Linked DNA regions of Homo sapiens: region 1 is linked to region 2. Evidence: fine-mapped expression QTL. Tissue or cell type: whole blood. Region 2 holds a variant in brackets; the other region holds the start of a gene. All regions are shown on one strand. Distances are from middle to middle.

Evidence for each region. PIP is the estimated chance that this variant, and not a neighbour inherited with it, causes the effect.
Region 1: it holds the start of GGA2, and the variant in region 2 is fine-mapped to the expression of GGA2 in whole blood (TOPMed, PIP above 0.99).

The regions. Positions count from the first base shown.
Region 1 is chr16:23,507,819-23,512,818 of GRCh38, reverse strand. GGA2 (golgi associated, gamma adaptin ear containing, ARF binding protein 2) reads left to right here and starts at 2,325. Exons shown (of 17, transcript NM_015044.4): 1 at 2,325-2,498. The coding sequence starts at 2,408. RefSeq lists silencers at 2,049-2,098, 2,169-2,398, 2,469-2,638.
Region 2 is chr16:23,378,236-23,383,471 of GRCh38, reverse strand. It overlaps SCNN1B (sodium channel epithelial 1 subunit beta), which reads right to left. Exons shown (of 13, transcript NM_000336.3): 11 at 4,705-4,766; 12 at 3,303-3,378; 13 at 2,178-3,051. The coding sequence ends at 2,671. Among named protein-coding and RNA genes, the nearest start is that of COG7, 72 kb to the left of the region's middle. RefSeq lists an enhancer at 2,913-3,414. The variant G/A (reference allele first, on the strand shown) is at 3,068.

The DNA of each region.
Region 1 (5,000 bases), 130 kb before region 2:
GCAGGGGAATCACTTGAACCCAGGAGGCAGAGGTTGCAGTGAACTGAGATTGCACCATTGCACTCCAGCCTGGGCAACAGAGCGAGACTCAAAAAAAAAAAAAAAAAAAAAAAAAAAAGATTTTCTTTAACTCCTTAATGAGGAAACTGGTGAGATGTTCAAACCAGTCCAAAGAATGGACATCATGTATAGATCAGGAATGTTGAAATGGATGTGCAAGTGGGGGCAGAACTGGTTTTTCCACAAGAAGTCTGTGTGTTCCCAGAACAGTATTCATTTGCTTGTGTGTGGACAAGAATCATCACCCATTGCTATTCAGTTATCTACAAGGAAGAATTTGTGCTTCTGTATGGCATACGTACCTATGGTCTAAGAAGAATGTGTGTTCTGAGTTCCAAGCTACAGAATCACAGAGTGGCCAGCCCAGAGGTTCACTCTTTATCTAAGAGGAACATCTGAACCCTTGGCCCCATCCTGTGGAACGCAGGCCATACGGGGGATCAAGGCCCTTTGGGGTTAAATTGAGGTTGCCAGATGGAGGTTGCTAGGGGAAGGGTGCTAGTTGAAAATACTATATAAACTGATGCTCTTTACAAATGGTAGTGGTCCTCCTGTCCAGCCCACTGCCACTAGACCACCCCGTAAGTCCCCTCAGTAAACCTGCCTCATTCAGTGGCTCTGGGTCTCTTCTTCCGCCTTTCAAACATGGTGCCATCCCTACTGAAGTTAATAGGGGTACGGCACAACAGCTTCAATGGAAAATTATGTGTTGTCTAGACAGCACAACCTTCCAGGTTCTAGCCTTTCTTTGTCTTTGAGAAGTCTCATAACTCTGTTAAGTTGATACCAATGCAAAATAATTCTTGCCTATAAATAGGTAAATTCCGCTCACTGGAGGGACAGCTCTCACCCCGGTCGAAAAGCCAGTTTTGCCTCCATTTGCACATTCGTCTTATCTTCCTTTTTTTCCAGATAAATTTGCCCTTCTTTGACTTCACTTTTGGATTGATTATAACATCTGCTTGGTTCCCTCATGTAATTAAATAAAATATTTAACACGTATTCATTTCATAATTATGATAATCATGACATACTTTTTTGGGAAAATTATCTTTTAACAGAATAAGCAAGTAAATAATACATCGATGGTGTACTGTGTGATGCAGAAAATAAAGCAGAGTATTGAGGAATGCAGGACATGTTAGTTTAGAAGTGTTCCAGGAAACCAGGGAGGTGGAGGTTGCAATGAGCCGAGATAGCACCACTGCACTCCAGCCTGGGCGACAGAGCGAGACTCCATCTGAAAAAAAAAAAAAGTGTTCCAGGAAAACCCTTCTGTGAATAAAAATGCAAGCACATAGGCCGGGCGTGGTGGCTCACCCCTGTAATCCCAGCACTTTGGGAGGGCGAAGCGGGCAGATCACGAGGTCAGGAGTTCGAGACCAGCCTGGCCAACATAGTGAACCCTCGTTTCTACTAAAAATACAAAAAAAAAAAAAATAGCTGGGTGTGGTGGCATGCACCTGTAGTCCCAGCTACTCGGGACGCTGAGGCAGGAGAATCGCTTGAACCCAGGAAGTGGAGGTTGCAGTGAGCCGAGATGGCACCCCTGCACTCCAGCCTAGGCGACAGAGTGAGACTCCGTCTCAAAAAAAGAAAAAAAGAAAAATAAAAAATAAATGCAAGCACTTTGGGAAGTCGAGGTAAGAGGATCTTGTAGCCCAGGAGTTCGAGACCACCCGGGCAACATGGTGAAACCCAGTCTCTAACACACACACACACACACACACACACACACACACGGTGAAACCCAGTCTCTAACACCAGGAGTTCGAGACCACCCGGGCAACATGGTGAAACCCAGTCTCTAACACACACACACACACACACACACACACACACACACACACACGGTGAAACCCAGTCTCTAACACACACACACACACACGCCAGGCGTGGTGGTGCCCTCCCCTAGTCCCAGCTCCTCCGGAGACTGAAGCGGGAGGATCGCTTGAGCCTAGGAGGTGGAGGCTGCAGTGAGCCGTGATCGCGCCATTGGACTCCAGCCTGAGTGACAGAGCAAGACCCCGTCTCTTAAAAAATAAAAATGCTAAAAGAATTATTCGTGTTCTTCTGAAAATCAAATTTAACTGGGCGTCTTGTATTTTATCTGGCAACCGTACGGTGAGTGGTCTTAGAAGACCAGCGCTGGGTGGAGGGATCTGGACTAAGAAATGTTCCGGCCGGTCCCGCGTGGAGGGGGGGCCTGGGGTGGGCGTGGCGCCAGCGGCCCCGCCCCGTCACGTGTCCACCGCTCCTGCCGCGCAGTCAGCAGAGGAGAGCGCCAGGACGCTACAGCGGCTGAAGAGGCAGTGGCGCCCGCGGCCGCAGCGTCGGGGCTGGAGCGATGGCGGCGACCGCGGTGGCGGCGGCTGTGGCGGGAACCGAGTCGGCCCAGGGTCCCCCGGGCCCGGCAGCGTCGCTGGAGCTGTGGCTCAGTGAGTAGCCTGGCAGGCCTTCGGCGCAGCCGCTGCGCCGCACGTGAGGCCTCGCTTCCCGCCTCCCGGGGCCTTGCTTCGGGGCGGGCGGCCGCAGGGGAGGCCGGCGGCCGGGTAGGGGGCCTGGGCCCGGCGCGGTGGGGAAGATCGCCCAGGGGTCCCCCGAGAGGAGCCCCAAGCATCCGCCGGGGCAGCGGCCCCCTTCTGAGCTCTGCCCCTCCCCCTCCGCCCACCCCCCAACTTAGCAGCAGCACAGGACCCCGACCCCCACCCCAATGGCTACGTGACCTGCGCTTTCCCCTGCGCCAGGCACTGTGCTCACAGCGGCTTAGTCCTGCTTAATCCTCATTCCCACCCCGAGCTGGCTTCTATTATTAACCCCACTACGGAAGCGGGGACCTTGAGGCTTAAGGAGACGCAGTCGTGCAAGACATGCAGTCTGTTTGGGGCTGAGAAAGATCTCTATCTGGCTACCGCGTCAAAAAGAAATTTTTTACCTTTTGTGTTTACTTTGGCCAGACTTTTTTTTTTAAACACACACACACGTGTGTGTGTGTGTGCGTATATATATATATGTGTGTTTTTTTTTTCCTTTAAGAGACGGGGTCTCATTATGTTACCCTGGTTGGGCTCAAACCCTTTGGCCAGAATTCTTCTGCATGTCTCCTGTAAGCTTCACAGTCATCTTAGGGGTTATTATTATCTCCGTTTTACCAATGAGGGATTGAGGTTCAAAGGGGATAAAGAATATTCCCCTTGTACCCAGCTCTGCTAGGTGCCAGGAACACTGAGATGCATAACACAGGGTCCTTGCTCACCAAAACATTTTTTAGTGGGTACAAGCCGGCAGTCACATCACCTTACTAACGGGATTGGCGAGGAGGAGGAGGGCGTTCGTTTCACCTGTGGTGGTAGGAGTTGGTTTACCTGGGGGTCGTCACAGCCGACCGCATTCCAGGCAGAAGAAACTGCGTGTGCAAAAGCTGGGGACAAGAGAATGTGGAGCACTCCGGGAACAAGTAGGTCAGTCCGCTGGAGTGCAAGCCTAAAGCTCAGGAATCCGGGAAAGGGGCTGCACGGCTAATTGGGGCGAGATCTTCAAGAGCCTTGTGTGCTGCAGAAAGGAGTTTATGTTTTATCCGAGGGCGGGGTTGCTGTTTGGGAGTTTTCAGCCGGAGAATCTGATCAAGGAAGCCTGTTAAAGGCGTCACTTGCAGCCATATGGTGCTAAATTGGGCGGAGAGGGTGAGACTTCAGGCAGGGAGAGCGGCTAAAAAGCTCTTTTGGTGGTGGTTGGGGGCCGCAGGAGGACTAAGGCAGTGGGGAGAGGGAGAAGCAATGAGCAGGCGTAGTCAGCAGCCTCGGTGCCTTGGAATGCAGACAGGGGACAAGGAGAAATCTAGGCTAGATCGCGGGTTTCAGGCTCGAGGAACTGGTGGGTTACAGATGCCTCCCCTGTGAGGAGGAGCTGGTTTAGGCAGAGAAGGTTGAGATGTGGAGTTTGAGGTGCTTGTGGCATAGTCAAAAAAGAGATGCCCTCTAGGCAGCTGGTTGGCACTGGAGAGGGCAAGTGTGGGACGTACGGTTTGGGAGTCTGGTTCATTGGCAGTGAGCTTGCGGGAGAAGCTTGCGTATATTAAGAGCAGAGGTTTGGAAAGAGAGCGTGGGGAGCCCCAGCATTGAAGAGGCAGATGGGAAGAGAAGACTGAAGGCTGAGCAGAAACAGGCAGGGGGAGACCTGCAGGGGCACCCACTGATAGCAAAGGAGGGATGTGGTTGTAACGTAGTTTTGCTCCTTAAAGATGGAGGAGAATGAGGAAGGAGAAGAGAGAACTTTGAATTTGGTAACCAACCAGTTATTTAATGAGACATCCTTGAGTTAAACAGTAGAGACAGAAGGTAGTAGTTTTAGGAGGCAATGGAGAACAGAAGGCTTAGACTGGAGTTGCAAAAATTAGAAAAAAAGGCTGTTCATGCCTGTAATCGCAGCACTTTGGGAGGCTGAGGTGGGCCAATCCTTTGAGGCCAGGAGTTTAAGACCAGCCTGGCCAACATGGTGAAACCCCGTCTCTACTAAAATACAAAAAATAGCCATGTGTGGTGGCGCACACCTGTAATTCCAGCTACTTGGGAGGCCGAGGTGGGAGGATCACTTGAACCCTTGGGGCAGAGGTTGTGGAGGTGGAGCCAAGATTGCACCGCTGCACTCCAGCCTAGGTGACAAGGCGAGATTCTGTCTCAAAAAAAAAAAAAAAAAGTAGCCGGAGTAAGAGAAAGTAGCTGCCTCAGGTGGAGGAGATAAAAGGAGTGCCTGGAACTGAGGCTGCCCAAGGACACAGTTCTTCAACTCCAGCTTTTTTTGAAACAGAGTCTCACTGTGTCACCCAGGCTGGAGTGCAGCGGCATGATCTCAGCTCACTGCAGCTTACCCCTCTCCTGGGCTCAAGCATTTTTCCCACATCAGCCTCCCCAGTTCTAGCTTTTTTTAAATGTATTTTTATT
Region 2 (5,236 bases):
CTTTGGGAGGCCGAGGTGGGTGGATCACCTGGGGTCAGGAGTTCGAGACCAGCCTGGCCAACATAGTGACATCCCATCTCTATCAAAATATAAAAATTAGCCAGATGTGGTGGTGGGCGGCTGTAATCTCAGCTACTTGGGAAGCTGAGGCAGGAGAATCGCTTGAACCCAGGACGGGGAGGTTGCAGTGAGCCGAGATAGCGCCATTGCATGCCAGCCTGGGCAATGAGCAAAACTCCATCTCAAAAAAAAAGAAAAAAGAAACCCCAGACCTAGGCGAGCCCCTGCATACAGCCATGCCTGAAACCCTTTTACTACAAGAGCTAATGAATTCCCTTTGTAGCTTAAGCCTGTTCAAATTGACATGTAACTGAAGAGCTGTCACGCGGGCTAGATAATAATGCCCCATAGCTTCAAATAAGATAATAAATATGAAAGCTCTGGGCTCCCGTAAGGGACTGGTATTGTTATGACCATTGGCACCCAGAGGGTGAGGCTGGGGTCTCAGCTTTGTCACTTAAAAACCTCGAGTACCTTACTTCACCTCTTAAGCCTCAGTGTTCTTACCTGTGCAATGGGATGCTATTATACTATTTCTCAGTGGTTATGAGAATGAAATAAAATTTAAAAAGTTACTGGCATAGTGCCTGGCATATGATAAGTACTTGATCCAATGTAGTCCTTGTTTAATAACAACAAATGGTAACAGTGATTGTGGCCACAACTACTACTGCTAGTAATAAAAGCGGTAATCACAGTAGTAAGTAATCACAGCGGTAATCACACAGTAAGTAGTAAGGGTGGTAACCACCAAGAGTTGTGGGCCCAGCCTGCGAGCTAGCCAGGCCCCAAGCTGGGAAACCCGGTTTCCTACTCAGCCCTCCCTACTCAGCCCCTAGCAACGTTGCCTTTGACTGAAGTGGCACCGACTCTGTGGCACCTCCTTCTTCCACAGGTGCCATCCTGAGCACTTGATGGGAGGCCAGCTTGTTTACCTTCCAGACCAAGGGACACAGGTGACCTAGGCCAGGAAGGCTGGGCCCTCAGAGGCTCAGGCTCTAAGCCAGCCTCTCCTTCATCACCAGGGGCCCGGTAGGTGACAGCAGGGTGCTGCAGTGCTGTGTGTGCACCTGCCAGACCGTACTCTGGTGACAGCTCCCTGATCTCTCTTTGGGTACCTTAAGCTTTTGGGGGACGGTATTTAGCAATTAAAAATACAGAATGAAAAAAATTAAAATTAAATTTTAATTAAAAAAAATTAGCCAGGCATGGTAGTGCACACCTGTAATTCCAGCTGCTTGGGAGGCTGAAGTGGGAGGATGGCTTGAGCCCAGGAGTTTGAGGCTACGGTGAGCTATGATCATGCCATTGCACTCCCACCTGGGCAACACAGTGACACCCCATCTCTATAAAAATATATATGTATAAAATGCTCAAAAAAAACAACAAATGATTTATTTGTATGTGTCTCTAGTATTGCATGGATGTACATATACTAAAAAAATCAGTTTTTCGGCTGGGGTCGGTGACTCATGCCTGTAATCCCACCACTTTGAGAGGCTGAGGCAGGTGGATCGCCTGAGGCCAGGAGCTTGAGACCAGCCCGGCCAACATGGTGAAACCCCGTCTCTATTAAAAATATGAAAATTAGCTGGGCGTGGTGGCATGCACCTGTAATTCCAGCTACTCGCGAGGCCAAGGCATGAGAATCACTTGAACCCAGGAGGCAGAGGTTACAGTGAGCCAAGATCGTGCCACTGCACTCCAGCCTGGGCAATGACAGTGAGACTCCATCTCAAAAAAAAAAAAAATCAGTTTGTCTATCTGAAATTCAAATTCAACCAAGCAGCCTGATTGTTATCTGGCAACCGTGGGTACTGTGCCCCCACCGCCCTTGGACCATGTGATTCTCCTGGGGGCCAAACTGGCTTCAGGTCTGGGCAGATGAATTCAGGTGTGACCAGTCAGAGCAGCTTATCTAACTGGCCACACTGACTGGGTCAGAGATGGGTACACAACCCAGGCAGGGATCAGTGAGTGTCAGCCTGGGAGCTGGCAGTGGAAGGAGGGGCTTGAGAGCCTTTCCCTTAAACCAGTTTGGGTCTCAAGCCACTATGGATGCCCTTCCGCCATCAGGGCACCTCGGCTGCCCAGTCAAACAAACAACACAGCTGGACTCAGTATTTTCTACTTTTATTTTCTAGAGTAAATCAGGTGCCACTTGGCAGGGTCCCTACACCTGATGCCCTTCCATCTCTCCACCACCCCTGCCCCAGAGGCCAGCCAAGGCCAGGAAGGAGAAAACCACATGGCCCACCCGCCTGTTCCTCTCTGGGGTGGATGGAGACTGGCACTGGGAGGGAAGTGGCCTGCCACCAGGAGAGGGTGTTCCGAGGGGTCTTCAGGACCAGGATCAGGACAGGTAGGGACGAGGGTAGGAACCAGGTGAAGATACAATTTATTCCTGCATCCTGTACCAGCACCGTGATTCTACAGAGCCCTTGGCCAGTAACGGACCAGTTGCCGCTGGCCTCTCTGTTGAAGGACACAAGCTCTGGCCTGGAGAGCTACCCTCCCGACCCTTTGGAGAGGGCACCATACAGTGAGGCCTCGGGCAACAGTCTTGGCTGCTCAGTGAGTTTCAGCCGCCCGGGGTGGGCAGGGGCAGGGTTAGATGGCATCACCCTCACTGTCAGACTCGATGACGTCCAGCGGCTGCAGACGCAGGGAGTCATAGTTGGGGGGCGGGGTGCCTGGGATGGGCAGGGCCTGCTCACTGGGGTAGGGCCCAGTGTTGGGGCTGCGGGGGGCCGTGTCAGGCTGGAAGCCAAAGTTGGTGTGGGCCTCCACCAGCTCGGCCACGGTGGGCGGTGGGCCAGCGTAGCTGGCTTGGGCTCGCCGCTGCCGTAGGCTCTTGGCCAAGGCCACCAGCTTGATGATGGTGATCCACACAAAGTCGATGATGATCTCCCCAAACTCGATGAGGCACAGCACAGAGCCCCCCATCCAGAAGCCAAACTGGCCACCCAGATTCGAGAGCAGCCAGACGATCTGTGGGGAACAGGGA[G/A]CTGGGGTGAGCTCAGGCCACACATTCTTGCCTCTAGCCCAGCCTCACAGCTTCCTGGGAGGTGATTCTTGGGTGGGAACGGGAGGGGGTGACCATCTTGGCCCAGGGGAATAACTTGGGACTGTCTTAGGGATCTTCCTAATTCCTTCATAGGGCTCAGAACCCTTCCCCCACCCTCAGGGTGCAGGGGTCAGGGCAGGGCAGGGCTGGGGTATTGGGAGACTCCTAAACTCACGTTATTGGCTGCTGATTCTTCAATGGTGCGATAGTTAAATTCTTGGAAGTAGATGTTGAGCTTGACAATTCCCTTCCTGCAGGAGGCAGCGAGAAGGGCCGGGACTAATGTATCCCCCTTCCAAACAGACAGACACACACACACGCACATAGACACATGCACACACATGCACGTGCACACACCCACATGTATGCACACACATGTACCCACACACCCGTGCACACATGCACACAGGAAGGCAGCCAGGGATGGCCGCCCCAGCCCTCCTCTGTCCTGAGCTTCTCTCATGCGTGCCCCCGTGAGTGGGGAGGTCCAAACGAGAACTGCAAGTGCAGCCCTTCCCGGCCCTTCTGGGCATCTCTGCCCAGCACCCATCCTATGGCCCCCTTTCTCCATCCCCTGACTACCAGTTCCCTACAGGACACTCTGGCCTGGGACAGCCCCAAAGATCTGCTCTGAGCTCCCCACTTTGTGCCATCAGGGTGGCCTGGGCTATACGGAGTGACTCCGCACAGAGCTCTTCACTGAGCCTTGAGCGCCTTCACTGCACCTGGGACAGAGAAGGGTGGCTGTGTGGGCATCCCCTCCCACCTGATCGTCCTCAGGCTGTGCTGTCTCGTGCCTCCAGGCTTTCCAGCTTTGTCTTCTGCCTGGACATTGGTACCTCTTCTTATCTGAACAGCACTTACTCCTCCTTGGAGAGTTCACTCAAAGCCACCTCCCTACGCAGACCTCCCTTATCTCTCAGGCAGACTGAGGCTCCTTCCCTGCTGTACTCCTAGAGTAGGGGGCTTGTACAGACCCTCCTCTCCTTGAGCCCTTTTTACATATGTTTGCCCCCTAGACTCCTGCTAGCTTGGACTGTGTGTCTTTCTTGTGCTCAACTAGTGTTTGTGTTGAATGGATGGAGAGATCCATGAATAAACGGAGGATGGCTGGGTGCGTGGGTGGGAGAATGGAGAGGTGGATGATGGAGGGATGAATGGGTGGAGGATGGCTGGCTGCGTGGGTGGGAGAATGGAGGATGAATGAGTGGAGGATGGCTGGGTGTGTGGGTGGATGATGGAGGGATGAATGGGTGGAGGATGGCTGGGTGGGAGAATGGAGGATGAATGAGTGGAGGATGGCTGGGCGCGTGGGTGGATGATGGAGGATGAATGGATGGCTGGTTGGATGCACAGTGACAGAGGGAAGCACAGGCTTCTCCTTAGCAGGTGGTAGACTCAGAGTCCCCTTGGCTGCCTTTCCTCTCTCTCACTCCTAGTGCCTCCTCCTCAAGACTTGCTCCTCGGTCTGACCCATGTGAGAATGTGTCTGAGGAGCTGTCCTGTGTCCAAACTCCTGCCCCGAGTTTCTGGACCCCTTCCCTGTCTTCCCCAGCCCCGCCCAGGCTCAGGCTCACCTGCTCAGGGTGATATTGGTGCTTTGGTCCCGCTCCTGAGACAAGACGTGGAAAATCCAGTCCTGGAACCCAAGAAGGTGGTTGCAAAAGTTGCCATCTGCAGCATCCCTCCCAGTCATGGCTCTGTTCCCTGGGGGAGGTAGACCACAGCCCTGTCCCTTCCTGAGGCCCCCGGGGGAATCACAATTTGGATGAGGAGCAGGAGGAAGGTCGTAGTGGAAGCTGTGGCTGCTGTTCTAGGGGAGGAAGGACTCGGGCCTCCAGACTCTTCCTCGGCGGGCCTGGCCACCCTGCCCGGCTCTCTCCCACCTCTGGTCCTCACACTTCCTGCTCCCTCTGCCCGGAATCCTCCCCAGCTCTGCCCATGATGGCTCAGCCTCTGCCTCCAGGTGTCAGCTCCAATGTCACCTTTTCAGAGAGGCCTTCCCTGACCACTCGGTCTAACATGCTTTCCCAGAAGCTGGGCATGGTGGCTCATGCCTGTAATCCCAGCATTTTGGGAGGCTGAGGTGGGAGGATCGCTTAAGGCCAG